2 separate regions of the Homo sapiens genome follow, and region 2 is linked to region 1. Evidence: fine-mapped expression QTL. A gene starts in region 1. The other region holds a variant in brackets. All regions are shown on one strand. Distances are from middle to middle. Region 1 holds the start of FAM151B (family with sequence similarity 151 member B). Region 2 overlaps FAM151B (family with sequence similarity 151 member B).

What was found.
Region 2: its variant is fine-mapped to the expression of FAM151B in whole blood (TOPMed, PIP above 0.99).

The regions. Positions count from the first base shown.
Region 1 is chr5:80,478,328-80,494,780 of GRCh38, forward strand. FAM151B (family with sequence similarity 151 member B) reads left to right here and starts at 9,773. Exons shown (of 6, transcript NM_205548.3): 1 at 9,773-9,821. The coding sequence starts at 9,797. ZFYVE16 (zinc finger FYVE-type containing 16) reads left to right here. Exons shown (of 19, transcript NM_001284236.3): 19 at 1-5,052. It overlaps FAM151B-DT (FAM151B divergent transcript), which reads right to left and starts at 9,619. Exons shown (of 3, transcript NR_172938.1): 1 at 9,451-9,619; 2 at 7,139-7,234; 3 at 4,473-4,839. RefSeq lists silencers at 3,131-3,240, 10,043-10,337 and enhancers at 9,377-9,878, 9,879-10,378, 15,197-15,783.
Region 2 is chr5:80,504,781-80,521,233 of GRCh38, forward strand. It overlaps FAM151B (family with sequence similarity 151 member B), which reads left to right. Exons shown (of 6, transcript NM_205548.3): 3 at 8,824-8,989; 4 at 14,913-15,130. Among named protein-coding and RNA genes, the nearest start is that of FAM151B, 25 kb to the left of the region's middle. RefSeq lists enhancers at 2,331-2,831, 7,771-8,970. The variant A/T (reference allele first, on the strand shown) is at 9,059.

The DNA.
Region 1 (16,453 bases):
ACTTCGCATATTTTCATTGACACCAGTGTATAAGTATAAATTTAAATGAACTAATTACTTTTGCATATTTTAAATTCTTTATATGGTAGTTATTTTTTATAACAGGATATTAACATAAGTTAAATCCTATGTATTTGAAATTGTTACAGAGCTTTCCTCTTTACTTCAAACAGCAAAAAAGTGGGGGGCATATTGTAGTCCTGTCATTTAAGTTATGTAAAAAATTTAATCATTATTTTGATGCTTTAAACATTCTCATGTGTAATATATGTTTTTGTATCAAAAACACTCATATATTTCAAGAAAAAGAAATTATGTTAAATAGCCCTGTTTTAAGAAAAATATTTATGAAGCATCTCAACTTGAAGATCAAGTCAAAGTTATAACTCAGGATCTGAGGTCTCAAGCTAGGAGAGACTGAGAATTTTAATCAGTTTGGGCATATAGTTTGGACTGAATCACATCTGTAGTACTTAGCCAAAGACAATTTGGAGGAGAATATCAGCCTTCTGGAAGTAGCTACTTCCTGAACAATGTAAAGTGTCGCAGATATTCAATAAAATGGCAACCTGTTATAATTTGTGAAATTTATTGAAATGGTGTAAGATGAAAACAATTGCATATCAAACCCAATTTATGTTTTCTAAATATAGTGTATGTATTCTGCCATGTAAGTAATTGAACAGTCTTAAAATAACCAAATGGTAGAGGGCTGTTCCATGATGGGACAGCTTTGGATTTGTTTTCATAAAATCTCTATATTCAATAAAAATTGGAATTATGTGCCTGAAGTTTGGAGGCACATTTTGAAGTATTCTTTGTAGACATATAGTATGTTTCTGAATGTGTTTGTTACTTATTTGGTCATTGGTACTTAATTTGAAATTTTAATTTTTTAAGAGAAGAAATAGAATGGTTCTTTGTACTCAGTCTGCAATGATCTATTTTTGGCTTATGTCTTTTAATACTACTCTCTTTCTCTGAATTTTGAAATATGAAGTAAAATCTAGCCCATTTGTTTTATGCAGCTATTCAACAAACTTTGTGTGTTCGTATACTTGCTACATGCAGAGCACTTTACCAGGTTTCTAAGCAAAAATTTCTAAAAATGATTAATTGTTCTGACAGAATTAGGCGTAGTTCTTTATCAACATTTATGGATTCCATGCCACAAGTAGTATGCGCTTAAGTGCAGAGCATGCCAAGAGAAAGAGTAGGATTTGGCCCTGTAGGAGCAAAGATTCAATTGTGGGAAACTACTTGTTTCTGAAAATTGCATGCTAGGATATTTACATCATGTTCCTGTTGAAAACAATTCCTGATTAAAATACAAGAATAATCTTAAAACATCAAAGAGATTTTCCAGACAATAAGGAATGCCAAGTCCAAAAGTAAAGAGAATAAGAGAAGCAAGCATGTACCCTTACTCTGACAACCTTATGAGTGAGGGGGACAGAAATTAAAGTTCAGGGCCCATATAAGGTGATGAACCTAACAGGAGACCCTCCACACAATAGGCTGAGACTCCCAAATACTTTCACCTTTAGGATGATAATGAATCAGAGGTGGAAGAACCAATGTAAAAGAACAGGCAAGTTTAGAATTGCCCCAGTGATCTAAAGAATCTTAAGCACTGAGCTTCCTTTAAGGTGTTCCCACACTAGTAATGCCTCCAGGTGACAGAGAAAATAAAATGTAAATACTTTTCATGGAAAAGTAATTTCATTGTAGGCCTCAAATTACTTTTCAAATATGTCTAGTAACACATAGTAAAAAGTAGTCATATAAGGAAACTAGATTCCAGAGGCAAGAATTACTTGAAGCAATGAAAACAAACTCACAGATATAGGTATTAGATTTGTTTTCTTTGTTTAAGGAAATAAGGTGTGTGAATGTACTTGCAGGAAATGGGAAACTATACGATAAAAAGTTGTGGAGCTAATCTGGAAAAGAACTGAATATAAACATTACAAGAATATACATAAAAACTGCACTTTAAAACTCAGTAAATAGATGTAATAGAATGTAGCCAATTGGGGTAGTTTATAAACTGGAAGATAACTCAGGAGAAACTATTCACAGTGCACCATGGGAGAAACAGCTGGAAAAAAAAACAGAAGACCTGTAGAGAATACAGTGAAAAATCCTAAGTGCTTCATTAGCTGTGAGAGGAGAGGCAAGAATAGGACAGAGCAAATACTTAGATAGAATGCAGAATTTTAAAAACTGATGAAAGACATGACCCCACACATTCTAGAAGCCAGACAAATCCCAAACAGAATAAACTAGAAAATCCACACATAGACACATAATAAGGCCAGGTGCAGTGGCTCACACCTGTAATCGAGCACTTTGGGAGGCCAAGGCAGGAGGATCACTCGAGCTCAGGTTGAGACCAGAGTGAGCAACACAGGGAGACACTGTCTCTGCAAAATTAAAAAAATTTTGCCAGGTGTGGTGGCTCATACTTGTGGTCCCAGCTTCACGGGGGCTGAGGTGGGAGGATCACTTGAGCCCAGGAGGTTAAGGCTCCAGTGAGCTGTGATCGTGCAACAGAGCAAAACCTTGTCTCAAAAAAAAGGAAAAAGAAAAAAGACATTTAACAGGAAAACTGGAAATGCTAGCTGACAGAGAGAAAAATAGTCCAAGGAACAATTTGCTGTTTCTAGTCAGAGGACCAGAAAGGAGGTTGGAGGCTATGGGACAAAACCCTTTTTAATTTAATTGCAGTATTCTAAGAGAGCCTCAGGAAAGATGCAGTAAGACCCACCGCCCCACCAGGAGAACCATGGGTAATGACTTGGAACCTTCTGGACTTTCCTTGCTCTACATCAATCCCGCAGCAGTAAAGAGGTATCACTCTTCTCTTCCCCCTGGTGCACTAGTGGCAGACATTGCAGGGCAGAACACTGGCAATGGGGAGGCTAACGCCCTGACTTTCTAGCCAAAAACCAAGAATGGGGTTCTAGAAACCAGAGTATAGGTAAGATCACAAATAGGAGGGAACTGAAGAAAAGGAACCCTTAAATCTGTCAATAAAATCCTGGGATCATCTCACAAGCTGTGTATGTGTGAAACTAACCAGAAGCAGCTGAGCAAAGGTTCTGAACACTGAATTACAGTGTAGGCCACTGTCCAAGTTTCAGATTGGCCACTAGATGGTGCACAACTGGGGCAAAGAACAGCTTAACAAAGGCAGTGAAAACTAACATTGGAACCACAGCCACCAAAAAAAGTGGCCAGGATGTGTGCTCTGAAACTTAACTGAATTGATGGTCTGCTAAAACAAAACAAAACAAAAACATTCTTATGAAGATTTAAACAGGATAGAGAATATCATAATATTCCAAATATATCCCAGAAACAACCCAAAATGATTGGACAAAGAACTTGTGAAACCTAAGCAACTCTCTAGGGAAAAGACAATGAACAAGAGCCAACTCTAAGGTTACCCAAATGTCAGAATTATCAGAAAAAGACTTAAAACTAGTTATTTTATTTTTTTTATTTATTTTTGAGACAGTCTCTATCACCCAGGCTAGAGTGCAGTGATACAATCTTGGCTCACTGCAACCTCCACCCCCAGGGTGCAAGTGATTCTCCTGTCTCAGCCTCCTGAGTAGCTGTGACTACAGGTGTGTACCACCACGCCTAGATAATTTTTTGTATTTTTAATAGAGACAGAGTTTCACCACGTTGGCCAGGCTGGTCTCAAACTCCTGACCTCAAGTGATCTGCCTGCCTGGGCCTCCCAAAGTGCTGGGATTACAGGCATAAGCCAGCACACCTGGCCGTTAAACTAGTTATTTTAATCATGCTACACAAAGAAGACATTTCTCCAAAGGAAATATATAAAGGGAAACACTGTTGAAATAAATGGAAAGCTAAAAGTCTCAGCATAGAAGCTATAAAAAGAAACAAGTGGAAATTGTAGAACTGAAAATACAATAACAAAATTTACTGGAAGGTCTCAACACAATGAAGATGACTGAGGGAAGAGTCAGTAAATTTGAAGATACATGAGCAGAAATTATCTAGTCTGAATGACAGAGAAAAAAGTGAAAAAAATGAGAAGACCTTTGGGGATCTGTGGGACAATATGAAACAGTCTAATATTCATGTCTTAGGAGCCCAGAAAGAACAATTGGAAGAAAAAAATATCTGAAGAAATAATAGCTAAAAACTTCCAAACATCTGGCAAAAAACAAATATTCACATACATTTACATAGCATTCTATTTAAAGCCGGTCTGCTGGCACAGCAAATCCCAAAAAGGAAAACCACACCCAGGCACGTCATAATCAAAGTGATGAAACCAACTGTAAAGAAAATACTTTGAAAACAACTGGAAGAAAACAACACTTTGTATATAGGAGAACCAAAGATTTCAGTGATGGCAGATTTCTCATCAGAAACCATGGAGCAACATTTATAAAGTGCTTTTAAAAAGCAACAAAACTGTCAACACAGAATCCTTTATCCAGCAAATATATTCTTTAGGAAAGAAAATGAAATAAAGACATTTTCTTTTTTTTCTTTACTTTTTTTTTTTTTATGAGATGGAGTCTCACTCTGTTGCCCAGGCTGGAATGGATTGGTGCGATCTCAGCTCACTGCAACCTCCGCCTCCCGGTTCAAGCAGTTCTCCTGTCTGAGCCTCCAGAGGAGTAGCTGGGATTACAGGTGCGTGGTACCACGCCCAGCTAATTTTTTTATGTTTGTAGTAGAGACGAGTTTCACCATGTTGGTCAGGATGGTCTCAAACTCCTGACCTCAGGTGATCTGCCTGCTTCGGCCTCCCAAAGTGCTGAGATTAGAGGCATGAGCCACCATACCTGGCTGAAATAAAGACATTGTCAGAAGAAGGAAAGCTAAAATAATTCATTGCTAGTAGTCCTCCTTTAACAGAAATGGTAAAGGAAGTTCATGGGGAAGGAAAATGATTGCAAAGAAGGAAGAGCAACCAAAATGGCAAATCTCTGGATAAACCAAATAGACTTACATGTTTGTTAAAATATATGTAACTGCTGAAATAAAAAAATTGTAACATCATCTTTTGGGATTTTCAATGCATATAGATGTAATACAGATGAAAACTGCATACTAACCAAGGGGACAGTGACAGAACCTATATGGTAAGTTTTCTAAATTTCACTTAAAGTGGTAAAACATTATAGTAGGTTACAAAAAGTTTGGTATGTAATGATCATCTCTAGAGCAACCATTTTAAAAAACTATGCAAGGAGATATGTTTAAAAAGCCGACATATAAAGTGGAATTTTAAATAATTCAAAATAAAGCCAGCAAGGAAAACAAGTGTAAAAGAAATAAGGGATCAACAAGAAAAATTAATGCTAAAATGGTAGACCTAAATCCAGCTGTATCAAAAATTACACTAGGCCAGGTGTGGTGGCTAATGCCCATAATCCCAACACTTTAGGAGGCTGAAGCAGGAAGATCACTTGAGGCCAGGAGTTCAAGATCAGACTGGGCAATGTAGTGAGGCCCCGTATCTACATAAAACTTAAAAGAATTAGCCAACCATGGTAGTGCATGCCTATAGTCCTGGCTACTCAGGAGGCTGAGGTGGGAGATCATTTGAGCCCAGTAGTTTGAGGCTGCAGTGAGCTGTGATCATACCGCTGTACTCCAGCCTGGGCCACTGAGCAAGACCCTGTCCCTAAAAATAAAAATAAATAACAATTACATTAAATGTAAATGGTCTAAATATGGCAATTGATTTTTTTTTTTTTTTTTGGATCAAGTCTCATTTATTCTGTCACCCAGGCTGGAGTGCAGTGGCACAATCCCGGCTCACTGTAACCTCCACCTCCCAGGTTCAAGTGATTCTCCTGCTTCAGCCTCCTGAGTAGCTGGGATTACAGGCATGTCCACATCTGGCTAATTTTTTCTTTGTTTTTATTAGAGATGGAGTTTCACCATTTTGTCCAGGATAGTCTTGAACTCCTGTCCTCAACTGATCTGCCTGTCTTGGCCTCCCAAAGGACTGGAATTACAGGCATGAGCCACCATGCCTGGCCAGATGGATTTTTTTAAAACCTAATTTATATGCTATCTATACAAGCCACTTATGATACAATGGTACATGCAGGTTAAAAAGTAAAAGGATGGAAAAAGATATTCCATGCAAACACTAAAAAGAAGAAGAAAAGGACAAAGCTGGAGTGGTTATTTTGCTATCAGACAAAGCAAACTTCAGAACAAGGAATATTACCCTGTAATTTATTTTTAAATTTATTTATTTATTTATTTATTTATGAGACAGGGTCTCATTGTATTGCCCAGGCCTAGGGTGCAGTGGCTATTCACAGGCACAGTCATGGCACACTACAGCCTTGAACTTAGGCTCTTAACCCATCCTCCTGCCTCAGCCTCCTGGGTAGCTGAGCCTACAAGTGCGTGCCACTGCACCCAGTTCCCCTGTGATTTATTATTGCATTTCATAGACTAGATACCAAGTTCAGAGAGAGAGTAATCTGTCCAAAGTCACACAGCTAGAAACTAAATTGGAATTTGAGGGAAAACTTTCTAGCTATTAGGACTCTGAAAATGAGGTAAGCTGTATTCATGCAGTGCTTTGTTTTGATTTTGAGACAGAGTCTCACTCTGCGGCCCAGGTGGAATGCAGTGGTGTGATCATGGCTCACTGCAGCCTTGAGTTCCTGGGCTCAAGCAATCCTCCCACCTTAGCCTCCTGATTAGCTGATACTACAGGCACATGCCGACACACCTGGCTTGTTTTTTATTTTTTCGTAGAGATGGGTCTCACTATGTTGTCCAGGCTGGTCTCAAAGTCCTGGTCTCCTCCTGCCTCAGCCTCCCAAAGTACTGGGATTACATGTGTGAGCCACCATGCCTGGCCTTTATTCATGTTTAGATGTCACCAAAAGCAGCCCCAGACTCAAGTTGGGGCCTGTGTCTCACATTCTAATCGTTATATTCTTTCCCCAGTGCAGCATGTACCCTTAACTTACAAAACCTTTTTTGTGCCAAAAAAGTAATTAGACTTATTTTTACCATAAAATTTCCAAACACTCAGAAGTAAAGGAAATAGTAGGATGAAAATCTATATACCCAGCCTACAACAATCCTCTGAGTCAACACTATCAAGACTTACCTCTTTTGCTTCATCCATCCCTTAATTTCTTTGCTGGAGCATTTTAAAGCAAATATCAGACATACCCTTTCACGCCTCACACTTCAACATGCGGCTCTAAAAATAAGGACAGTGAAGAGGAATTTTGAGTCAGTTATTGTAAAATATATGAAAATATTGTAATATTGTGACCAATATGTCATAAAAACTTAGCAAACTGATGCAGGAACAGAAACCAAATACTGCATGCTGTTACTTATAAGTGGGAGCTAAATGATGAGACACATGGACACAGAGTGGGGAACAACACACTGGGACTTTTGGAGGGTGGAGGGTGGGAGGAGGGAGAGCAGGAGAAACAATGAATGGGTACTAGGATTAATACCTGGGTGATGAAACAACCTGTACAACAAACCCCTATGATACAGTTTACCTGTGTAACAAACCTGCACTTGGACCCCTGAAGTTAAAAATTTTAAAAATGAAAAAAAAAAAAAGCCGGGCACAGTGGCTCACGCCTGTAATCCCAGCACTTTGGGAGGCTGAGGCGGGTGGATCACTTGAGGTCAGAAGTTCGAGACCAGCCTGGCCAACATGGTGAAATCCTGTCTCTACTAAAAATACAAAAATTAGCCAGGCGTGGTGGTGCGTGCTTGTAATCCCAGCTACTCAGGAGGCTGAGGCAGGAGAATCGCTTGAACCCGGGAGGTGGAGGTTGCAGTGAGCCGAGATCGTGCCACTGCACTCCAGCCTGGGGGAACAGAGTGAGACTTCATCTAAAAAAAAAGAAAAACAAGTTTTTTAAAAAAGACCTGTACTGCAATCAATGCCATCAAGAAAGTGAAAAGACAATCTGCACAACGGGAGAAAATATTGCAAATATTTGCAAATTACCTGTTAAGGGACTTGTATTGAGACTATATAAAGAATTCTCACAATTGAAATGAGCACAGGATTTGAGAAGACATTTCTCCAAAGGAAATATATAAATGACCGATAGCACCTGAAAATATGCTCAATATTATTAGTAGGGAACTACAAATCAAGATAATGAGGTAGTACTTCATATCTACTAGGATGGCTATAATTTAAAAAACATAACAACAAGTACTGACTGGTAAGGATGTGGGGAAATTGGAATCTTCATACATTGCTGGTGGGAATGAAAGATGGTACAGCTGATTTGCAAAACTGGCAGTTCCTCACACAGTTAAACAGTTACTATATGAACAAGTAGTTCCACTCCTAGGTATGTACACAGATATGCACACAGGAATGTATTCATATACGTCCACACAAAACTTGTCCATGAATGTTCACAGCAGCAGCATTCATAAAAGACAAAATGTAGAAACAACCCGAATGTCCTTCAGCTGTTGAATGGACACACATAAAATGTGGTATTTACAAACTGGAATTTATTCCAGCATAAGAAGGAAGGAAGTACTGATACATGCTAAAACATGGGTGAATTTTGAAAACATGCTAAGTGAAAGAAGCCAGTTACAAAGATCATACATACAGTCTGTGATTCTATTTACATGAAATTCCAGAATAGGCAAATTCATGAGACAGAAAGTAGATGAGTTGTTGCCTGGGGGTAGGAAGGGGGTAAATGGAGAGTGATTGCTTTGGAGTGATGAAAAATATTTTATCTGAAAGGCTGGGCAAGAATAACTCCCCTTTGTATTACGTGTCAGGTGATGTTAGTTATCCTAACTCTACCACTGGCAGATTGAGTTTTTTGGTCACAGAAGCTGAAAATGGCAGAGCTTTGTTGTTAATTCTGATCACTAGTTTGGCTTCAAAAAGTAATGAGTTAAGGAGGGCTAGAAAGACAGTGGATGGGAGGACCCAGTTGCTGAGAGCGTTTTCTGAGTGAACACTGGTAGAGAGACAGAAGGGGAGAGAAAACTTCAAGTTATCAGCTCGGTAACTTTGTACAAAAACTTATTTATTTATTTATTTATTTATTTGACAGTCTAGCTCTATCGCACAGACCGGAGCGCAGTGGAGCGATCTCGGCTCTCTGCAACCTCCACCTCTCCGGTTCAAGCCATTCTTGTGCCTCAGCCTCCCGAGTAGCTGGGATTACAGGCGCGCGCCACCACGCCAGGATAATTTTTTAAATTTTCAGTAAGGACGGGTTTTAACCATGTTGGCCAGGATGGTCTCGAATTCCTGACCTCAAGTGATCCGCCCACCTCGACCTCCCAAAGTGCTGGGAGTACAGGCCTGAGCCACCGTGCCCGGCCAGAAACACTGATTTTTATCAGTAATGATTCCACACCCTTTTAGGATATTACTAACATTTAAAAGAAAATATACCCAACTGTTGAAATTCGTGCTCCACTCCAGCAACTGCTTTCAATCGGAGTTCCATCCTCCGCCGCAGTATGCCCTAACGCAGCGTTATCTTCAGAGCTACCACCAGCTTCCGAAACCTTTCGGAGGAGCGCTTCGCCACCACCTGCACGGCGAAGCGGCGCGTAAACGAACCTCGAACGCCAGCCTTTGCGCCTGCGTGCCGCGGCTCCGTTTGGTTCCGCTTCGCTGGCGCCCGCCGGGCTCTTCCCCCGCCGAGGCCTGTGGTTTGTGGAGTCGAATTTCCCTGCCACCAGTGCCCGGTTAGCAGGGGCGCCAGCCTGGGCGCCTGCGCGGACGGCGGGCGTCGTCACCATGGCAGCATCCGCTGGAGGCCCAGGTAAGCGCCGAGCGCGCGGCCTCTGCCTGGAGGTGGGGCGCTTTGAGAGGCTCCGCCGGCCGTACCCTCCCTTTGCGGGCTCCCGCGGTCTTCCTTGCTAGGGACCTGGGAGCGCGCCGCGCAGAACCGGGCGGCTGGGCTTGGAGCCCGCTCTGCACTCGGGGCGCGCCCGCGATCGCCTGGCAAGGACCTTGGTTTGCCGGGTGGGCTCTAAGGGACAGGCGTTAGGGGAGGTCGAGAATGGCAGGGTCAGTGTCTTTTGAGGTCTGGGTTGGAAAGAAAGGAATGTGACGTTTCCCTAATCCTTAATTTCAGCCGACCGTATGGGGGCGGTCTGGGTCAGTAGGTTCCTCTTTGAAAGCTGGGGGAGGTTTGGGAATGCGGACTGGGCCGGGCCCGGCATAGTCCCGCTGCTGAGCGCGCTGCCTGGAAAGCTGGCAGAGTGTGCGGCTCGCTTGATTCCCCTTGGAATCAGGTGCTTCAACTCGCGGGACAGCAGTTCCGCTCTTGAAGGTTACAGTATCTTTTCTGTAAACTTAAGTAGTGGCATGAGACAACGTCAGTGACGCGTTCTTTCTTCAGTTTAGATTTTTTTCCCTAATTGTAAAAATAATACACGCTTTCACCATTCTGACTAGCAGGCTGTATAAATACAGGTTCTCTTCTGAATCGATGCACAGTTTACAGAATCTTGGAATAAAATGTGTGTGTAAGCGAAAAATGTCCAGGTCCTGATAAATGCCATTATAGAACATTTATAAAGTATATTAGTATAGGGAAATAGGAAAAAAAAATCCCCCAAATGCTGATACCCACAGGCACCACTACTAACTTTTTGGTATTTTCTAACAACCCTGACTCTTAAAAATAGAGTTAAGGTCATGGTAAACATAATTTTTAAAATCCTGCATCTTATACTATCCCATGTCACCAAGGTTTTTATAAACATAATTTTGAATGACTGAAGTGTTTTATACAATTATATTGTATACAATTATATTGTAATTAACCAGTCTCCTAATGTTGAACGTTAATCAGTCGTTTCCTGTTTTGTTTTGTTTTGTTAGAATTCATTCTGTAATGAACATTTTTGCATTGTTCTTCCTCAGTTATGTTTTTGGTTTGTTTTTATCCTGGACACGATTCTTGTAACTGAAATTACTGGATCAAAGGATGTGAACTTTTTTCTCTCTCTCTTTTTTAAGATCTGTGCTAAACCTCCGTAGAACATTTTTTCAGACCAGAGTTTTCCTTTTTTAACCCTTGTGCTCTTCTCAGTATAAATCCTTTTAATGCCTAGTTTTCCTAAGAATCCAAACAAATCTGGGACAAAGCTCACACTCAAGACTTACACCATTCTCACTCACAGGCTGTATAAATCCAGATTCTCTTCTGAATCGATGCAAGGTTTACAAAATCTTGGAATAAAATGTGTGCACAAGTGAAAAATGTCCAATTGCTGACAAATGCCATTTTTTAAAAAACAAATTTTTGGGCCGGGCGCGGTGACTCACGCCCGTAATCCCAGCACTTTGGGAGGCCGAGGTGGGCGGATCACGAGGTCAGGAGATCAAGACCATCCTGGCTAACACAGTGAAACCTCGTCTCTACTAAAAATCCAAAATAATTAGCCGGGCGTGGTGGCGGCGCCTGTAGTCTCAACTACTAAGGAGGCTGAGGCAGCAGAATGGCGTGAACCCGGGAGGCGGAGCTTGCGGTGAGCCAAGATTGCGCCACTGCACTCCAGCCTGAGCAACAGAGAGAAACTGTCTCAAAACAAAAACAAAAACAAAAATTTCTTCTCATTACCGAGTTATTGATAAAACTAATTCTTAACCAGATTCTTCCGTTATATGTCATTTTTCCCCCTTACACACACACACACACACACACACACACACACATTCTCAACATAAAAAAGTTCAAAAGGCACAATAGGATGTATAGTGAAAAGTTCCGTCCTGGCCGGGCGTGGTGGTTTACGCCTGTAATCTGAACACTTTGAAAGGCAGGAGGATCGCTTGAGCCCTGGAGTTTGGATCAGCCTGGGCAACACAGGGAGGCCTTATCTCTCCAAAAGAAAACAAATAAATTAGCCAGGTATGGTGGTGGCACATACCTGTGGACCCAGCCACTCAGGAGGAGACTGAGGCGGGAGAATCGCTTAAGCCGGAGAGGCTGCAGTGAACCAAGAACATGCCAGCCTGGGCAACAGAGCCAGAGCCTTAAAAAAATTAATAAATTCTTCAAAATCCTTACTGATGTACAATTTGCATACTATTAATATACAACTTATTTAAAGAGTATAATTCAGTGGTTTTAGCTTATTTATTTAATTTTAGCTTATTCACAGACTTGTGCAACAATTACCACAATTAATTTTAAAACATCTTCACCTTACAAAAAGAAACACTTCCCCATCCCCCACCCTTTAACATCCACAACTGCTATTCTTCTATTTTCTGTCTCTATGAATTTGCCTGTTCTGGATGTTTCATATAAATGGAATCATCCAATATAGACCCTCTTATGTCTAGCTTCTTCCACTTATCATAGTGTTTTCAAGATTCATCCATCTTGTAGCATGTTTCAATACTTCATTCCTTTTTATGGCCAAAAAAGGAATTGCATGAAACACCACATTTTGTTTATCCACTCATTAGTTGATGGACATTTGAGTTGTTTCCATCTTTTGGGTATAGTGAATAATGCTACTGTGAACATTTGTGTACAAGTTTTTGTGTGGACATATGGTACATTGTCTTTAATGGTAAGTCAATTCTGGTAGTCACTTTTGGAAACTGGAAGGAACCTTAATGATTGTCTAGTCCAGGGGTCAGCAAATAGCAAACTTTCTTTTTTAATTTTATTTTTAATTGACAAATAATAATTGCATATTTGCGAGGTACAATGTGATGTTATGATACATGTATACATGGTAGAATGATTAAGTCAGGCTAATTAATATATCCATCACCTCACATACTTATCATTTCTTTGTAATGAGAACATTTAAAATCTACTCATTTAAGAAGTTCAAAATATATAATACACTATTATTATTATTATTATTATTATTATCATTGAGACAGGGTCTCGCTCTGTCACCCAGGCTGGAGTGCAGTGGTGCAATCATGGCTCACTGCAGCCTTGACCTCCTGGGCTCAAGTGATCCTCCTGCCTCAGCCTCCTGAATAGCAGGGACTACAGGCACACACCACCATGCCTGGGTTATTATTATTGTTAGTTTTAGTGGTAGAGACAAGGTCTTGCTTCATTGCCCAGGCTGGTCTCGAACTACTGAGCTTAAGCAGTCCTTCCGCCTCAGCCTCCCAAAGTGCTGGAGTTACAGTTGTGAGCCAGCATGCCTGGAATTACTAACTATAGTCACCATTGCTGTGCAATAGATCTTGGGAACTTATTCCTCCTGTCTAACCGGAACTTTGCACCCTTTGACTGACATATCCCCCTCCCATCCAATTGCCCTGGCTGCATCCCTAGCCTCTGGTAACCACTATTCTGCTTTCTACTCCTAGAGCTCTACTTTTTGATGTCCCAAATGTGAGACTGTGCAGTATTTTTCTTTCCGTACCTGGCTTATTTCACTTAGCATACTGCCCTCCAGGTTTCTTCGTTTGTCGAAGATGACAGAATTTTCCTTTTTAAGGCTGAATAGTACCCCATTGTGTATCTATACCACATTTTCTTTATCCATTTACCCGCTGATGGTGCTTAGGTTGTTTCCATATCTTAGTGGTCAGCAAACTTTTTCTGTAAAGAACCAGAAATTAAATTTTGGGCTTTGCAAGGCATAAATTTATGTTCCAACTAATCAACTCTGCTATGGTAGCTGGAGAACAGCCACAGGTCGCACAGGGAAGGAGGTTGGGATAAATAGAGGGAGCACAGAGGTTTGGAGCAGCAACACTGTGATTCCGTATGATATTGTAGTGGTGGATACATGCCATTGTACAAGCATTCCTTGTTTTATTGTACTTCACTTTATTGTGCTTTGCAGATAATCCTTTTTTTTTTTCCCACAAATTGAAGGTTTGTAGCAACCTTGTATTGAGCAAGTCTGTTGGTGCTGTATTTTTCAATAGCATGTGTTCACTTTGTGTCTGTCACATTTTGGGAATTCTTGCAATATTTCAAATTTTAAAATTATTATATTTATTATGGTGATCTGTGATCAGTGATCTTCAAATACTACTATAATAATTGTTTTGGGGCACCACAAAGTCAAACTTAATCTGTAAATGTGGTGTGTGAGCCTTGCTGGCTTGGGCAGTGCATGCTGGCCGGCTTGGCGAGGATAAAAAATAAATAAATAAATATGGTGTGTGTTCAGACTGCTTCACCAGCCAGCCATACTCCTGTCTCTCTCCCTCTCCTAGGGTCTTACTATTTCCTGAGACACAAAAATATTGAAATTAGGCCAGTTAATAACCATAGAATGGGCTCTAAGTGTTTATGTGAAAGGAAGAGTCACCTGTTTCTCACTTAAAATCGAAAGCCAGAGGGCTGGGCACAGTGGCTTATGCCTGTAATCCCAGAACTTTGGGAGGCTGAGGTGGGAAGATCACATGAAGCCGGCAGTTCAAGACCAGCCTGGGCAACGTATCAAGACCTTGTCTCTACAAAAAATTTTAAAAATTAGCTGGCTGTGGTGGGATGCACCTGTAGTCCTAGCTACTTGGGATGCCCAGGCAGGAGGATCACTTGAGCCCATGAGTTTCAGATTATAGTGAGCTATGATTGCACCACTACACACCAGCCTGGGCAACAGAGTGAGACTTGTCTCTAAAAAAAACAAAAACAAAATCAAAAGCTAGAAATGATTAAGCTTAGTGAGAAAAGCATTTCGAAAGCTGAGAGAGGCCTCTTGTGCCAAACAGCTAAGTTGTCAATACAAAGGAAAAGCTCCTGAAGAAAATTCAAAGTGCCACTCCATGGAACACACAAATTATAAGAAAGCAAAACAGCCCTATTGCTGATATGGATGTTGTGGGAAGTCAGGGACCCCGAATGAAGGGACCAGCTGGAGCCGAGGCAGAAGAACATAAATTGTGAAGATTTCATGGACATTTATCACTTCCCTAATAATACGCTTATAATTTCTTATGCCTGGCTTTACTTTAATCTCTTAATCATGTTATCTTCATAAGCTGAGAATGTACGTCACCTCAGGACCACTGTTGTACAAACTGATTGTAAAACATGTGTGTTTGAACAGTATGAAATCAGTGTACCTTAAAAAAGAACAGAATAACAGCAATTTTCAGGGAAATAGGGAAGATAACCATAAGGTTTGACTGCCTGCGGGGTTGGGCAGAATCGAGCCATATTTTCCTTCTTGCAGAAAGCCTATAAATGGATGTGCGAGTAGGAGAGATATCGCTGAATTCTTTTCCTAGCAAGGAATAACCCTGGGGAAGGAATGCATTCCTGGGGGAAGTCTATAGACAGCTGCTCTGGGAGTGTCTGTCTTATGCGGTTGATATAAGGATTGAAATACACCCTGGCCTCCTGCAGTACCCTCAGGCTTACTAGGATTGGGAAATTCCAGCCTGGTAAATTCTAGTCAGACCGGTTCTCTGCTCTCAAACCCTGTTTCCTGTTAAGATGTTTATCAAGACAATATGTGCACAGCGGGACATAGACCCTCATCAGTAATTCTAATTTTGCCTTGCCTTGTGATCTTAATTGCCCTTTGAAGCATGTGATCCTTGTGACCTACTCCCTGTTCATACACCCCCTCCCCTTTTAAAATCCCTAATAAAAACTTGCTGGTTTTGTGGCTCGGGGTCATCATCACGGTCCTACCAATATGTGATGTCACCCCTGGAGACCCAGCTGTAAAATTTCTCTCTTTGTACTCTTTCTCTTTATTTCTCAGACCAGCTGACACTTAGGGAAAATAGAAAAGAACGTACGTTGAAATATTGGGGGCTGGTTCCCCCGATATATGGAGAAAGTTTGAGTGGTCTGGATAGATCAAACCAGCCACAACATTCCCTTAAGCCAAAGCCTAATCCAGAGTAAGGCCCTAACTCTCATCAATTTTATGAAGACTGTGAGAAGTGCAGAAGCTACAGAAGAAAAGCTGGAGATTCTCAGAGGTTGATTCATGAGGTTTAAGGGAAAAGGCTGTTTCTACAACAAAAAATTTCAAGGTGAAGCAGCAGGTGCTAATGGAGAAGCTACAGCAAGTGATCCAGAAGATCTAGTTAAGATCATTGATGAAAGTAGCTGCACTAACAGCAGATTTTCTTTCTTTCTGTCTTTCTTTCTTTTTCTTTCTTTCTTTTCTTTCTTTCTTTCTTTCTTTCTTTCTTTCTTTCTTTCTTTCTTTCTTTCTTTCTTTCTTTCTTTCTTTTTTAAGACAGGGTCTCCCTCTGTAACACAGGCTGGAGGGCAGTGGCATGATCGTGGCTAATTGCAGCCTGGACCTCCTGGGTTCAATCGATCCTCCCACCTCAGCCCCCCAAGTAGCTGGAACTATAGGCACACACCACCACGGCCTACTAATTTTTGTATTTTTTTGTAGAGACGGGATTTCGTCATGTTGCCCCAGCTGGTCTCGAACTCCTGGGCTCAAGTGATCCTCCCACCTCAGCCTCCCAAAGTGC
Region 2 (16,453 bases), 26 kb after region 1:
GTGCTGGGATTAGACTATCACTCTTAAATGAAAGATTCCAAGCTTTTGTGCCCCTTTATAACCACACTGATAAAGGAGACCTACAACCCCCTTCCCCAACTTCATCCTGGGAAAATAATAAAAGACTAGATCATCTATCTTTCTGCAAATTCACTTGCCCTGTTGTCCTTGCAGAAGTTTGGCCATAGGGTGAAAGAACAACTTCTCTGTATCTGCCCTCCCCCTGGCGAGATAAGCCACACAAACATCAGGACTCAGCACTATTCACATGGTTGAAGAATTCCACCTTTGGCAGAGGGCTGGAAGCTGTTTGGATAGTACCTGGACATTGCTTAGAATTGCATTTGATAGAGAATAAAAGGAGTATAAAACTCTTTGATTGGTCTTGGTGTTTTGGTGTTTATTTCTTTATTTTTATTTTTTGTAGAGAGTCTGGTCCCAAACTCCTGGCTGCAAGCAGTCCTCCTGCCTCAGCCTCCCAAAGTGCTGGGATTACAGGTGTGAGCACCACACCCAGCCATTTTGTTATTTTATGCTTTGCCTCACTGTAATTAAAAGATCCTAAATATGGTATAGCTTAGAGAAGAGAGACATAGCAAACATCCATTGAGTTCTTTTTTTTTTTCTTTTTTGAGACAGAGTCTCACTCTGTCACCCAGGCTGGAGTGCAGTGGCACGATCTCGGCTCACTGCAAGCTCCGCCTCCTGGGTTCACACCATTCTCCTGCCTCAGCCTCCCAAGTAGCTGGGACTGCAGGCACCCGCCATCACGCCTGGCTAATTTTTTGTATTTTTAGTAGAGACGGGGTTTCACTGTGTTAGCCAGGATGGTCTCGATCTCCTGACCTCGTGATCTGCCCGCCTCGGCCTCCTAACTTGCTGGGATTACAGGCGTGAGCCACCGCACCCAGCCACATCCATTGAGTTCTTACTACATCACCAGTCCCCTTTTCTTTCTTCCTATAAGAATTTTTTTTTTTTTTTTTTTTTTTTTGAGACAGAGTCTCGCACTGTCATCTGGGCTGGAGGGAAATGGCACAATCTCGGCTCACTGCAACCTCTGCCTCCTGTATTCACGTGATTCTCCTGCTTCAGCCTCCCGAGTAGCTGGGATTACAGGCTCACACCACCACACCCGGCTAATTTTTTGTATTTTTTGTAGAGACGAGATTTCACCGTGTTGGCCAGACTGGTCTCGAACTCCTGACCTCATGATCCGCCTGCCTTGGCCTCGCGAAGTGCTGGGATTACAGGTGTGAGCCACCACGCCCGGCCAAGAACTTTACTTTTATTAAGGTATCCATTTCTGCTCCATACAAGCATATGGAAACTGGTTCCATTTGTAGCTCCAGGGGTGCATTACAATAAGTTAATCAGCACTTGAAGTTTTCCTGATGATTCATATTGCTCCCATGGTGGGCAAGTGATCAAACTGGGCTCAATTAGACTCAAGTAAAGTAATTATAATTACCAAAGAAGTTTTATATCTTAAAATTGAAGTATGTGAACATGAAAATATGTAGCCCTAGTGATTATTGGTAGCTGTCTTAAAATCATGAGATGAAATTAGCCTTACGATGAAGACGACACCAAGGACAGTGAAGAAAAGAGACATAAAGATCACAATAACATCACTGAGCTGCTGATTGTACCACACTTAAAGCTCACCTGACCCCTGGACTTTTAGTTATTTGAGATGATAAATCTACTAGCTTGAATCTGAATTTCTATTTATTTGCCGCCAGAAGCATCCAGTAGATCTATGAGTCCATCCTAATTGGATAGATTATTTTCCCTGCTTCCACACTTGCCCCTGTCTATTTTATTTTCCACCCAGCATCCAAAGTGGTATATTTAAACATAAATCAAGCCTCTTTATTGGTCTCAAATGGTGTTCCATTTAAAATCTTTAATATAATTGCTAGATAGAAACATGTTTGGTTCTACTGCTCTGGTTTCCAAGAGGAGAGATTTTTTTCCCTAAAGGCTTTGACCTCTTGCCTCACTGTTTATTTCTCTCATAGAGGTTGAGAGATTGTTTTGATTTGTAGTTCTTGACTGGGTGGAGCTAATCTATCAAATGCACTAGGCCAAGCAAGGTGGCTCACGCCTGTACTCCCAGCACTTTGGGAGGTCGAGACCAGCCTGGCCAACATGGTGAACCTCCGTCTCTACTAAAAATACAAAAATTAGCTGTGCATGGTGGTGCATGCCTGTAGTCCCAGCTATTTGGGAGGCTGAGGCAGGAGAATTGCTTGAACCCAGGAAGCAGAGGTTGCAGTGAGCCAAGATCATGCCACTGCACTCCAGCCTGGGTAACAGGGTGAGACTCCATCTCAAAAAAAAAAAAAAAAAAATGTGCTGGACAAGGGAGTGAGCTCTTCTCTTCCACTGGGAAGCAGCCATCTGGATATTTGTATTTGTTAGAACTTTGCTTCAAAGGGGCTGTTCCAAGATTTGGACTAGAGGGTGACTGTGGCAGTTAGCAGGTAGCAGGCACAGGCTTATTTAGTTCTCAACTAAGCTGTGTCCTCTGACCTAGCTTTAGAGGTAATACAAGTATACTTTGATCCCTGTCTACTTAACTTGGCTATTTTATTTCTCAAGATCCACTTGGAGGCCAGGTGTGGTGGTTCACGCCTATAATCCCAGCACTTTGGGAGGCCAAGGCAGGTGGATTGCTTGAGACCAGGAGTTTGAGACCAGCCTGGGCAACATGGAGAAACCCCGTCTCTACTAAAAATACAAAAATTAGCTGGGCATGGTGGTGCATGCCTGTAATCCCAGCTACTTGGGAGGCTCAGGCAGGAGAATTGCTTGAACCCAGGAGACAGAGGCTGCAGTGAGCTGAGATCATGCCACTGCATTCCAGCCTGGGCGACAGAACGAGACTCTGTCTCAAAACAAACAAACAAAAAACAGATCCATTTGGAGAAAGGGGTGCTATTTATTGGCATCTTCAAACTACTTCAATAACCTGAAGGGCCTGCACAGACTGGCCTGTGTCTCCAAGTCCACCTTCACAGTGTTTTCACATTCCTAGAAATTCCCACACTGGCCTCACAGCAGTGCCTTGCATGGCTACGCTCCCTCCTCCTTGGGCTGTCACACACATTCTTTCCTGGAAAGCTCTTTTCCCCACACTCTGCCTTGCTAACCCCTTAAGCTGATCCTTTGGTATCGGCTGAATTGTCACTTCCTCAAAAAGACTTTTCCTGACTCCAGAATCAAAATTCAGGGAAGCACCTTCCTATGTGGCCTTTTGTGACTGGCTTCTTCAATTAGTATGTTTTCAAAGTTCAGCTGTTTTCTAGTGTGTATCAGTTCTTTATTCCTTTTTATGACTGAATCATTTTTGTATGTAGATATACCACATTTTGTTTATCCATTCATCAACTGGTAGACATTGGTTGTTTCCCTTTTTTGCTACTATGATTACTGCTGCTATGAGCATTCACATACAGGTGTTTTTGTAGACATGTGTTTTCAGTTCTCTTGCTTATATGTCTAGGAGTAGAATTCCTGGGTCACATGGTAACTATATGTTTAACTTTTTAAAGAACTGCCAAACTTTTCCAAAGTGCCTGCTCCTTTTTACATTCCTCCTAGCAGTGTGGATAAGGGTTCTAGTTTCTCCACATCTTTGCCAACACTTGTTATTGTACTTTTTTTTTTTAATTATAGCCAGCTAAGTGTATATGAATTGGTATCTCATTGTGGTGTAGATTTGCATCCCCTAAAGACTAATGCTGGTGAGCATCTCTTTGTGTGCTTTTTGGAAATTGGCTTATATTTGCAGCTGAGTAGCTTTCTTAGCCTGTTCCCTGCCTGTAGAAATTTGGGAGCCCACAGACCTCTTTTCGTTTTGAACTATCTCTGTCCTTTTGTGTCCAAGTAGTTATATCTCCCTTAAAAATATAGTGGGCTTTTAATATATTAAATTTAATCAGAAGCCACACCCCCGTCTCTTTGAGGTAGACCTCTCTCTACTTTGGTATGCAAGTTAAGGTGCAGTGGACAACACCCTTAAGATTCCAGAAGATTCCATATCTAGCTATGTGGCTACATGAGGCACCTTCTTTCTGAGGGCTTAATAAAGGGTCATATGGTTGTACCCTTGGCTTGATATTGACACTGAGGCCATGTTTTACTGGTGCTATGGTTTGAATGTTTGTTCCATCCAAAACTCATGTTGAAATTTTTTTTTTTAAGAGACAACGTCTCACTCTGTCACCCAGGCCGTAGTGCAGTGACGCAATCACAGCTCACTACAGCCTTGACCTCTTAGGCTTAAGCGATTCTCCCTCCTCAGCCTTCTAAGTAGCTGGGACTACAGGCGTGTGCCACCAGCATGCCTGGCTAATTTTTTTTTTTTTCCAGTAGAGATGAGGTCTCGCTATGTTGCCCAGGCTGGTCTTGAACTCCTATGCTCAAGTGATCCTCCTGCCTCTGGCTCCCAAAGTGCTGGGATTACAGGAGTAAGCCACCACTCTGGCTTCATGTTGAAATTTAATTGCCAGTGTAACACTGCTGCGAGGTGATTAGGCCATGAGGGGTCCACCTTCATGGGTGGGTTTAATGCCATATTTAAAGGACTTTGGAAAGTGGGTGTTCTCTCGCTCCGCCTTCCACCAGATGAAAATGCAGTGAGAAGGCCCTCTTTAAGTATCAGCACTTTGATATTGGATTTCCCAGCCTCCAGAATGGTGAGCCAATAAATGTCTGTTTATTATAAATTACCCAGTCTGTGTTATTCTGTCATCACAGTATAACACAGACTAAGACAGGCAACACCCTAGATTTAAATTTTGGCCCGAGACTGTCTCTTACTTTGAGAATCTCTTGCCAGCTGGAGAGGACAGGAATAAGAAACAGTTTTATTTTCAAATTCAGAAAGTCCTGATTTGGAAATATTTTCTCTATATGCTGCTGAAAATCTGAAACGTTAATTATTTAGCTTAGCTCTTTCTTCTCATTCTTTATTATAAGCAGTTAAAAGAAGCCAGTTGCCACTTTCACCATTTCCCCTGGAAACCTCTTTAGCCAAATACACAGGTTCACTGGGTATCCTGTCTATCTTCCACCAGTTGCTACAGTGACAGTGTTGCCAGAAGTTTTACCACTATGGAAAACAATAAAATGAGCTTATTGTTCTCAAGCTTCCAGTAAGAATTTCTGCACTGCTCTTCCAGCTTCCATGAACAGTTCCCTCCTTGCCTTTCTTAGCCTCCACCAGGTCACAAAGCCAATGCCACATGTTTCAGGTTTTTGATATGGCAACACTCCACTTCCAGCTACCTATTGCTTTTTATCTATTGCTGTGTAATAGAATACCCAAAAATGAGTGACTTAAAATAGCAGTGCTGTATTTTTTTCTGATGATTTTATGGGTCAGCTGGTGGTTCTGTTGCATGTAGTACGGGCTTAGGACGTTCATGTAGCTGCATTCAGCTGGGTGCCCAGCTGGGCCTGGAAATTCTAAAATGACCTCACTCATATGTCAGTGGCCTTAATGCTCTCTGTCAGATAGGAAGTCTTAGTTCTCCTCCACGTGGCTTCTCTCTCTCTATGTGGTCTCTCAGTCTTCGGTAATCTTGCATGAATGTCTTTACATGGTGGCTGGATTTCAAGAGTAAGAAAACTGAAGGTGCCAGCAGTTTTAAAGGCTAGGCCTAGAACTGACAGTTTTATTTCCACTACCTTCTGTTGGTCAAAGCAGATCACAAGTGGTGCCAATCATAATCCCAAAAGACACAATCCCAAATGCCATATCCCAAGTGTTGAAATGCTGAAAGATCAAAATCCATAGCCTAAAATCCTTAATATCTAATTGAATCCCCAAACTATAATGATAGATTTAGAATTAGGTGCAATCAAGGCTTATAAGAGTGAATTTCAAGTTGTTACCAGTAAAGTTTGTCTTTTTCATTCAGCCTGATGCCTTTAACAGAAAACTCAGATGAGTGGATTGGTCACGTGAGATGGCAGTGACAAAAACTTCAGTTTAAAATGCCTTATGGATCTGTATTGGCATTCCTTCCCGCTGATGAAATTCTAGGAGCTTTTAGTAAATTAAAGCTGCATTTGCATGAAGAAGCCAGAGAAATTACTGACTGGTTTGAAGATAATGACGTGCATGGTCGGATAAGAAGACATGCCCTGGAGTTGCTGTTTGACCATCAGTATTGTTTCCACCAAATTTGTGATCTGCATATAAGTGCATGTGAAATGGATTTCCACATACCCAAAACAGCATAGAAACATGGCACAGAAGATCGGAAAGTTTAATAGGGAATACTCATGCAGGTGCATATCAAATCATAGAAGAAGTTGAGAAAAAACAGCGCCACATAGAAAATGAATCTGAATGTATCCTCCAAGGAGACTCATGCCCTAAAAGAAAAAATGTGGCCGGGTGTGGTGGCTCTCACCTGGAATCTTAGCACTTTGAGAGGCAGAGGTGAGAGAATCATTTGAGTCCAGGAGTTTGAGACCAACCTGGGCAACACAGTGAGACCTCATCTCTACTAAAAATTTAGAAAAATTAGCAGGGTGTGGTGGTGCATGCTTGTAGTCCTGGCTACTCAGGAGGCTGAGGCAGGAGGATCCCTGGAGCCCAAGAGTTTCAGGTTGCAATAGAGTGAGACTCTGTCTCAAAAAAAAAAAAAAAAAAAAAAAAAGGAAAGAAGAAAGCAACTATTTATTGCAGTGCAGGTTGGCCACCTCTTATGGAGTACACTTGTGCGATTACCTGTCATCTATCCCACTTTTTTCATGTGTCAAAGCTTCTTTTTCGTTTTTGCCCACTATTTTATTATTTATCTTTAAAAAAAATTTTTTTTTGAGACAGGAGTCTTGCTCTGTTGGCCAGGCTGGAGTGCAGTGGCACAATCTCAGCTCACTGCAACTTCCGCCTCCTGGGTTCAAGTGATTCTCCTGCCTCAGCCTCCTGAGTAGCTGGGATTACAGGCGCCTGCCACCACACTTGGCTAAATTTTGAGTTTTTAGTGGATACGGGGTTTCTCCATGTTGGCCAGGTTGGTCTCAAACTCCTGACCTCAGGTGATCTGCCTGCCTCAGCCTCCCAAAGTGCTAGGATTATAAGCGTGAGCCACCATGCTTGGCCATTTCCACTATTTTAAATGGTCAGCATTGTTTTTTATAATTCACTATGCTACATAATTCATCTTTGCATTGTTTCTGGTATTGGAGGTATAGATTGTATAAAGACTCTTAGAGTGTTCTAATTTGTTTTATGCATTTTTTTCAAATTTGACTCCACAGAGCTGCATTTTCACAACATTGACTTTGTGTGTAACCATTGCGCTTATTGATAAAAACGTTGAAACTTTCACAGGAAATGAAGAGATATCCATTTGTACATCTGCATTTGTGAAAGATAAAATTTCTCAAGATCACAGTTCTTTGGGTGACTATGTGTATGATGGCAACCCATCACAGTTTTTGACTGATCTTGTCAAAAGACTTAGGTTGTTCATCAAGTTATTTCAGATGACTGCAGTTATTTAAGCTATTTCTTTATGATTACAGTTCATTTGCTCATGTTATATCTCTGAACTGATTAATATACCTGGGTGTTTATGCTTGCAAAAATGTGTGTTATTATTGCCTATTTTATTGTGTAAAGTGGCCTCTGAAGTGTTCTGCCATGTTTTCATAGGTTTCTCAAATAAATGCCCTTTTAAAAATGAACAGGATTGGCACAGTGGCTCATGCCTGTAATCCCAGCACTTGAGGAGGCCAAAGCAAGATTACTTGAGCCCAAGAGTTCACGACCAGCCTGGGCAACATAGTGAGACCCTGTCTCTACAACAGATATTTTTTAAAAAAATCAGCTGGGCATGGTGGCACACACCTGTAGTCCTAGCTACTCAGGAAGCTGAGGCGGGAGGATTGCTTGAGCTCAGGAGGTCAAAGCTTCGGTGAAGTATAATGCTGCTACTGCATCAGCCTGGATGACAGGGTAAGACCCTGTTTCTAAAAAAAAAAAAAAAGAAATTTAAAAAAATGTAAGTAAATGCATTTTAAAGAATTTTTAAAATTATTTTTTCCAATATTTTCAGGATTTTGATCTTTTGGGATTGTGATTTTGGGGATTTTAGACTTTAGGGATTTTGATTTTCTGGGATTTCAAAATTCGAGATTATGGCATTTGGGGAATTACGGCCCCAACCCATCACAAGACCTGCCCAGCTGAAGAGGCAGGGAAGAGGATGTTGATGGGAAGAGCGGTATGCATGTCCTGGAGGAGTTGTTGGCAGCCATCTTGGAGTCAGTCTGTCACAGCCTGCTGAACATACTTACACCATGTCTGCTGAAGCTCCTTACCTGTTCAAAGGATGTATGCTTTTAAGCAGTAACTAAACCGTAAGTCAAAGAAGTGAATTTTTAATGTAGATTTTCAAACATGAGCAATGAATATCCATAATTTCTAATTTGAGGAGTGAGAAGATAAAAGTACGATTTTTATTCCCAGAAAGCTTCAGCAAATACTTATTAAGCCTTTCATTATGTATGTACTTTGCTGGTATTAGAAAGAAATTCAGAATTTGTATGTCAACAGCTTAAGATCTGTGTAACTTAGGGAAAGTCATTTAACTTCTTGACATCTGTTTGCTAATCTAAAAAATAGGGAGAATGTGTACGGACCTTGTATACTGCCTGGCATGGGATAATCGCTCACTGAGTGTTACTTTTCTTTCCTTTTTTTTTATCTTCCTCAAAAGGATACTGAACATGGTGCCTCCTGTAGTTCTGTGCCCTGTTTTCTTAGCATTAACTGAAGTTCTTTTATTTGGACAGGTACTGCTCACATGATAGAGGCTGATGTCCTTCTTCCAAGTGATGGATCAGAACACAGCCAGCCAATTATGGCCCATCCCCCTGAAACAAACAGTGATAATACTCTACAGGAGTGGCTGACTGAAGTTATGAAAAGCAATAAAGGCATCAAGCTGGATTTCAAAAGGTATTTGTATAAACACGTTCAATTTTCTGGGAAAAAAGTAATAGCTGTGCCTGACTACCTATTTTTTTT[A/T]ATGTTATCCAAACTGAAAATGGAATTGTAGACTCTAATATATTTCAGGACTGAACCTAAATGAACCTAAGACCCACTGAGTTATTTACTAAAATTGTTTTTTGGAGACCCTTAAAGGCAAAAGTTAGATTAATTTTTATAAAGGAATTTATCATAAGTGACCATCGTGACAACAGAAAGGTAAATTAAAAATGCTACATATGTTAAAAAGTAACCCAGGAGAGAGAGAGCTGGGAGAAATTCATTGAGCTAGTTAATGCATACCCTATTTGATTTATGTTATTATATTTGTAAAGGGAATTATTTAGAATTCTCCAATAACCAAAGTGTTTCTTAAAAATAATGCTTGGAGGCAGCCGGGCACAGTGGCTTCAGCCTGTAATTCCAGCACTTTGGGAGGCTGAGGTGGGCGAATCAACCGAGGTCAGGAGTTTGAGACCAGCCTGACCAAAATGGCGAAACGCCACCTCTACTAAAAATACAAAAATTAGCCAAGCATGGTGGTGGGCGCCTGTAATCACAGCTACTGGGGAGGCTGAGGCAGGAGAATTGCTTGAACCTGGGAGGCGGAGGTTGCAGTGAGCCGAGATCACGCCATTGAATTCCAGCCTGGGCTACAAGAGTGAAACTCCCTCTCAAATAATAATAATAATAATAATAATAATAATAATAATAATAATAATATTTGGAGGCATTAATACTGAAGAGCAAGAGTAAGCTGTCATTTCCTTCACTGTGGCCATCACAGGAAATTTTACTTTTGTAGTATTTTAGCAGTGTAAAAATGATAAAGAAAGCCAGAAATATACAGCAACACTTCAGAAGCACACTGTAAAGCTTATGAAGGCAGCTGCTATTGAAATCTAGGATTGGCAGTAAGCCTACTTCATCTCTGAGTAATATTTTTAAATAGAATTATCTCAAGAAATTAATAAGGACTTGGAATCTTGTAGGATTCTTAAGATGACTCTAACCATTTGTTATGGGGCAAAATATACCAGTAAACCTTATTATACCGTTAGTGAATGAATAGATGTATAAAATCTTGATATACAGGAGTTTGGATTGACAGGGTCTTGTGAATTAAAGAACTATCTTAAGATCATAAACTTTTTTTTCGACCGGGCACGGTGGCTCACGCTTGTAATCCCAGCACTTTGGGAGGCCAAGGCGGGTGGATCACCTGAGGTTAGGAGTTTGAGACCAGCCTGGCCAACATGGTGAAACCCCTTCTCTACTAAAAATACAGAAAATTAGCCAGGCATGGTGGTGCGCACCTGTAATTCAGCTACTCGGGAGGCTGAGGCAGGAGAACCTCTTGAACCCAGGAGGTGGAGGTTGCAGTGAGTTGAGATTGCGCCACGGCACTCCAGCCTCGGCAACAAGAGCAAAACTCTGTCTCAAAAAAATAAATAAATAAATAAATAATAAAAAATCATAAACTTTTTGAGTTATCAATGGTTCAATTTCATTTTATTGACAAAGAAACTTAGTTCCAGAGAGGTTAAGTGATGTACCTGAGGGTAACAGGTAAGCTTTGACAGGTAAGCTACAACCAGATCCTAATTCTCCTGAAGCCAGTCCAGTGTTCTCTATATCATGAAATAAAGCATTTGATCTTTAGTGCTTGATGGCTTAAACTTTTAGATCTCCTTGATGTCACGTGCTCAGTTTTTCATGTTTACTATTGCCCCTTGAATTGTTTCCTGGGACATATTCTTTGGCTTCTCACCAGTCAGATCAGCTCATTCATTCTTAAGTGCTAGCAGCTAGCACAAAAGCGCTGAGCCTCTGAAACAAAGATTTTGCAAGTTTTTTTTAAAGTCATAACATATTTGAAGGGGATTCAATATAAACTAATAGGTATGTGAACACCTATTACATGTCAGACACTGTTGTAAAAGCATTGCATGTATTTTTCATTAAATTCTCGTAACAATCCTAAGAGGTAGGTTATTGCTGTTATTCTCATTTTCCGGATGAGGCAATGGAGATGGAGGGGCTGAGGAGCCCGCTTGTCACGTAGTTGTTAGTGGAACTAGAGAGCTGTCAGCCTGGCTGGAGAGTTCACACTTTTAACCAGAATGCTGCACTCACTCCCTTTGTAAGAGCAGCTGAATGACCTGTTAGTTAAGTTTTAGTAGTTCTTGTTTTGTGCTTCTAAGTTACTTTGTTTGGTACACAAATAAAAAGTATTATATTTTGGCTGGGCGCAGTGGCTCATGACTATAATCCCAGCACTTTGGTAGGCCAAGGTGGGCGAATCACCTGAGGTCAGGAGTTCTAGACCAGCCTGACCAACATGGAGAAACCCCGTTTCTACTAAAAATACAAAATTAGCTGGACGTGGTGGCACATGCCTGTAATCCCAGCTATTCGGAAGGCTGAGGCAGGAGAATCACTTGGACCCGGGAAGCGGAGGTTGCAGTGAGCCGAGATCATGCCATTGCACTCCAGCCTGGGCAACAAGAGTGAAACGCCATCTCAAAAAAAAAGTATTATATTTTTAAATTTTATCTGGAGTCTCAGCAAGCTCTTCAGCGTTTTAGCTAAGAATTATTTTCCCTTAAACAATGCAATTTTATATAGTTTGTTACAATTTTAAGTACGATATTTATTTTATCATTCCCAATTTTTAAATGAAATTAATAGGAAAACAGGGTATGATATTTAGAAGTTTGATTTACAAATAACTTTTTAGGAAAAAAATATATTCTATAATAACTAAGTTTATATTCTTTTCAGGAGACTTAAATAAATACCACCAAGGAGCAATTTTCAGTAGTAGTCTCACCAGGACTTTCCTCTTCGGATGATCATCTTGGTGAAGCTTTGGTACTTCCTTATGGAAACTTAGTACTAATATATGTAAGAATTGAGAATGTTGGCCACTGTATTTTAAATTAGAATCACATGGAATTTATAGATTAATTTAGAAGGATGTGTCATTTTATAATACATGCAATATTGAGTCTTCCAGGCTTGGTCTGTTATTTCTTGTAGTATACAGTAGTCCTCTGTTATCTGCAGTTTCAGTAACCTGCAGTACACCATGGTCTAAAAGTGTTAAATGGAAAATTTGAGAAATAAACAATAAGTTTTAAATTACACACCATTCTGAGCAGTGTGGTGAAATCTGGTACTTTCCTATTCCATCCCAGCTGGGGTGTGACTCATCCCTTCCCTTCGTCCAGCGTATCCACACCATATATGCTGCCCACCTGTTAGTCACTTAATAGCCGTCACAGTTATCAGATTGACAGATCACAAGAAGAAGGGTGAGTACGGTACAGTATGCTATTTTGAGAGAGAGAGAGAGACCACATTCACATAACTTTTATTATAGTATATTGCTATAATTGTTCTATTTTATTACTAGTTTATGTTGCTAATCTCTTACTGTGACTAATTTATAAATTACACTTTATCAGAGATAGGTATGTGTAGGGAAAAAAAACAGACTACATATAGGGTTGGGTGCTAGGTAGTTTCAGGCATCCCTTGGAGGTCTTGGAACATATTCCCTGCAGATAAGGTGGACTACTGTAGATTTTATTTTGTTGTTTAGGAAAGTTTGTTCTCAGTTCTTTTTTCTCCCACAAAATGTTACACCTTTTCTTCCAGAAGAACTTTAGAATTACTTCGTCAAGTTTTAGAAAATAAGAACTACAACAACAAAAAGTTTTTGGTTCTTTAGTGAGGTTTTAAATTTGTTTAACCGCAGATTTTAAGTTTCTGGTAAGGGAAAATATCATTATCCTTCGTCTACATTAGTGATAATTAAAATATTTACATATAAAATGGAATAAATGTACTAAATTCTTGCTTCACTGTGTTCTTTGTCATAGTTCCTTATGTTTAACTGCACAGTGCTTCGCATGTAGTAGGCACTTAGTAAACACTGGTGGAATTTCGATTTGTGGGAGAATACGCTGTTTGAAACTGGATATTGGCCAGGTGCGGTGGCTCATGCCTGTAATCCCAGCACTTTGGGAGGCCGAGGCAGGTGGATCACTTGAGGTCAGGAGTTCAAGACCAGCCTGGCCAACATGGTGAAACCCCATCTCTACTGAAAATACAAAAATTAGCTGGGTGTGGTGGCGCATGCCTATAGTCCCAGCTACTTGGGAGGCAGAGGCAGGAGAATGGCTTGAACCCGGGATGCAGAGGTTACGGTGAGCAGAGATCGCACCGTTGCACTCCAGCCTGGGTGACAGGGCGAAACTCCATCTCAAAGAAAAAAAAAAAAAAAAAAAGAAACTGGATATTATCAGATGAAGAATCAATCTTAAACCACTCACTCTATGTCAACTTACTAAATTGAGAAAGCCTAAAAGGCTCCCTCCTGAAATGTAAACTGGAAATTAGTATTTAACCCAGCTTCCATAAGACACCAGATTTCTTAAGAAATCAGAGTCCTTTTTGGAAAAAGAGGAGCTTGGCAGGAGGCATGCATGGATTAGTTCAAGGTTTTTCCTTACTCCACCCATGAAGAGCAGCACCTCATGGGGACTTGGCTGCTGCTATGGGACTGACAGACAAGCAAGCTTTGGAGTCACAGGTACAAGTTGCTTGCTACGAAAAATGGAATTTTGTAGGAAGTACAGTGTTGGATCTCAGAATTGTGGTTTTAACATGGTGTTGACACAGGGCAAGGCAGGGAGAATTTAAAAGAGACAAATGACAACATCTAAATTAATGTCTGCAGAGTCCAGCATTAAGGTTTATTAATCCACTAAAATCTAGGCCCTCCCCAATTCAGGGGCAGAAGAGTGAGAAGGAAGCGTACCACATGGCAGCAGAGGGAAAGGGGCTAGAAGCTAAGGGATAGAGCCTGGGTTCCTCTGGTTTTAGTACATAGTATCCTTGCTCACTGGTAAACATAACCCAATAAATAATGAGATTATTTAAATTTCTTCTCTTAGAGTAGGAGGCCCAAAAGGAGTGGAGACAAGAGAGGTAGAAGCATAGACAGAAGTACTGCCGTCTCTTAGGAAGAGAGAGGGAAATGTGAGGAGGGGTCGGTGAGTGTTCTCCCCTCCAGTATCCATCTCCAAAATTCATAGCCTCCCATTATGATATTCACTACAAGGTAATTTTCTTATAAATGAACATAGGCAAGTAAAAATTATGGAAGCTGATTAAAACCTTATTGTTTCAAAGTCTGTAGTTATCAGCTAGAATATCTGTAGGGAAGTAAAAAGATTGAAGTTGCTTTTTAAATTTGAACTAAAATATACGTATTTCTAATTTTCAGAAAAGGTTCTTACAATAAAAGAAGAAAAATGAAACAGAAACTTGAAGGAAATACTATAATTTTATATTTTACAGTCATTTTTAGAATTGTTTATGTATCCAAACTCACCCAAGAATACATAAGGGAAAGAAGCTACTTTTATTCTCCAGGGTCATGAGCCTGAATTAGAGATACAGGGCTTGGATCCACTTGGGTATTTCATAAATGTGAATTTACAGGTTATTAAGTGTATTTCATTTATCTTATTTATACATTCTGGAACGAGTGAATATTTGTGTCTTTTAAAAAACTGTTTTCACACCAAGTGATCCTAATATGGAGTTTTGAAACCTCTATTTTGTCCACAAGTAGTACCACTATTCATATATTTATAGACTCTTTAAGGTATATTCATGAATAATAAGCACAGTTCAACATTTAGAGATATGGCATATGTTAGCTTTTCCCTCTGGTGCTATGCGATCTTTGATTTTATTTAACCCAGACATTATTGTATTTTGATTATGAATTTGAGAACATTGAGACCACTAGTCTAAAAGAACTTCTTTTTACTTTACCTAAAGAATCTATCTCATTGACAACAAATTATGTTTTTAGTCTGGCAGTTGTAGAACCATCCATGATGCTCTTGGAAAATGTGAAGAGGCATCTGAAGCGTCCTGTATGGATTAATGCCGATATTCTTCCTGGTCCAAATGGAAATAGCAAAGTAATAGATGCAAAACCATTTTTAGACACCGTGATATCCTTCTTTCCAGACGTGACGTTTTCCCTGGGTTGGACAACAGGATGGCATCCTGAGAAAGTCAATGAAGGTAATAATTCTAATAATGTATTTCTTGGTCAAATTAAAATATCCTCCAGGTATAAAAATAACATCTTTAATACAAAGACCAAAACCCATTCTACAAAATCTAAGCCTGATGGAAAAAAAGGCCTGACCCTTCAGGTATGTGCAGACCCTTCCATCTGCTCTTTCAGATAGATGCCATGTTCACTGGTGACGCTGCAGATTTTAAGAGAGTTCACACATTTATAGTCATATAAGTAAAGCTTCTGTTAGCAATCTCTTTTTCTAATTTTTAAAAATATAATTTTCCAGATTTTAAAGGAAAGTGGAACACGTCCCTTCTTTTTATCAGGAAATTAGCTGCTAAACTAACATATTCACTTAAGATTTCTGTAAAATGTTCCTTTACTGACTGACCAATATTTTTTACAACTTGCTTTTGATAGAGTATAGAGTTATTTAAAATAGATATATTCTGGCCGGGCGTGGTGGCTCATGCCTGTAATCACCACACTTCGGGAGGCCAAGGTGGGCGGATCACCTGAAGTCAGGAGTTTGAGACCAGCCTGGCCAGCATGACGAAACCCCGTCTCTACTAAAAATACAAAAGTTAGCCAGGCATGGTAGTGTGTGCCTGTAGTCTCAGCTACTCGGGAGGCTGAGGCAGGAGAATCACTTGAACCCAGGAGGCGTAGGTTGCAGTGAGCCAAGATCGTGCCACTGTACTCCAGCCTGGGCAACAGAGTGAGACTCTGTCTCAAAAAAAAAAAAAAAGTGTGTGCATATATATATATGTGTGTGTATATATATATATATTTATTTATTATGTATATAGTTTATTTATATATAAAAATATATATTCTCTATATATACATAGATACTTTTTTTTCAAGCTATTTAGAAACAAGCAAGTGTGTTTTCCATGTGGTTTTTTTTTTTTTTAAATAGAGTCTTGCTCTGTTGCCCAGGCTGGAGTGCAGTGGTGTGATCTCAGCTTACTGCAACCTCCACCTCCCAGGTTCCCAGGTTCAAGTGATTCTCGTGCATCAACCTCTTGAATAGCTGGGATTACAGGCGCCACCACGCCCAGCTAATTTTTGTATTGTTTTTTAGTAGAGATGGGGTTTCACCATGTTGGCCAGGCTGGTCTCAAACTCCTGACCTCCAGTGATCCACCCACCTTGGCCTCCCAAAGTGCTGGGATTACAGGCATGAGCCACTGCACCTGGCCTTTTTTTTTTTTTTTTTTTTTTTTTAAAAAACAGGGTCTGGCTCTGTCACCCAGGCTGAGTGCAGTAGTACCATCATGGCTCACTGCACCTTCAACCTCCTGGGCTCAAGTGATCCT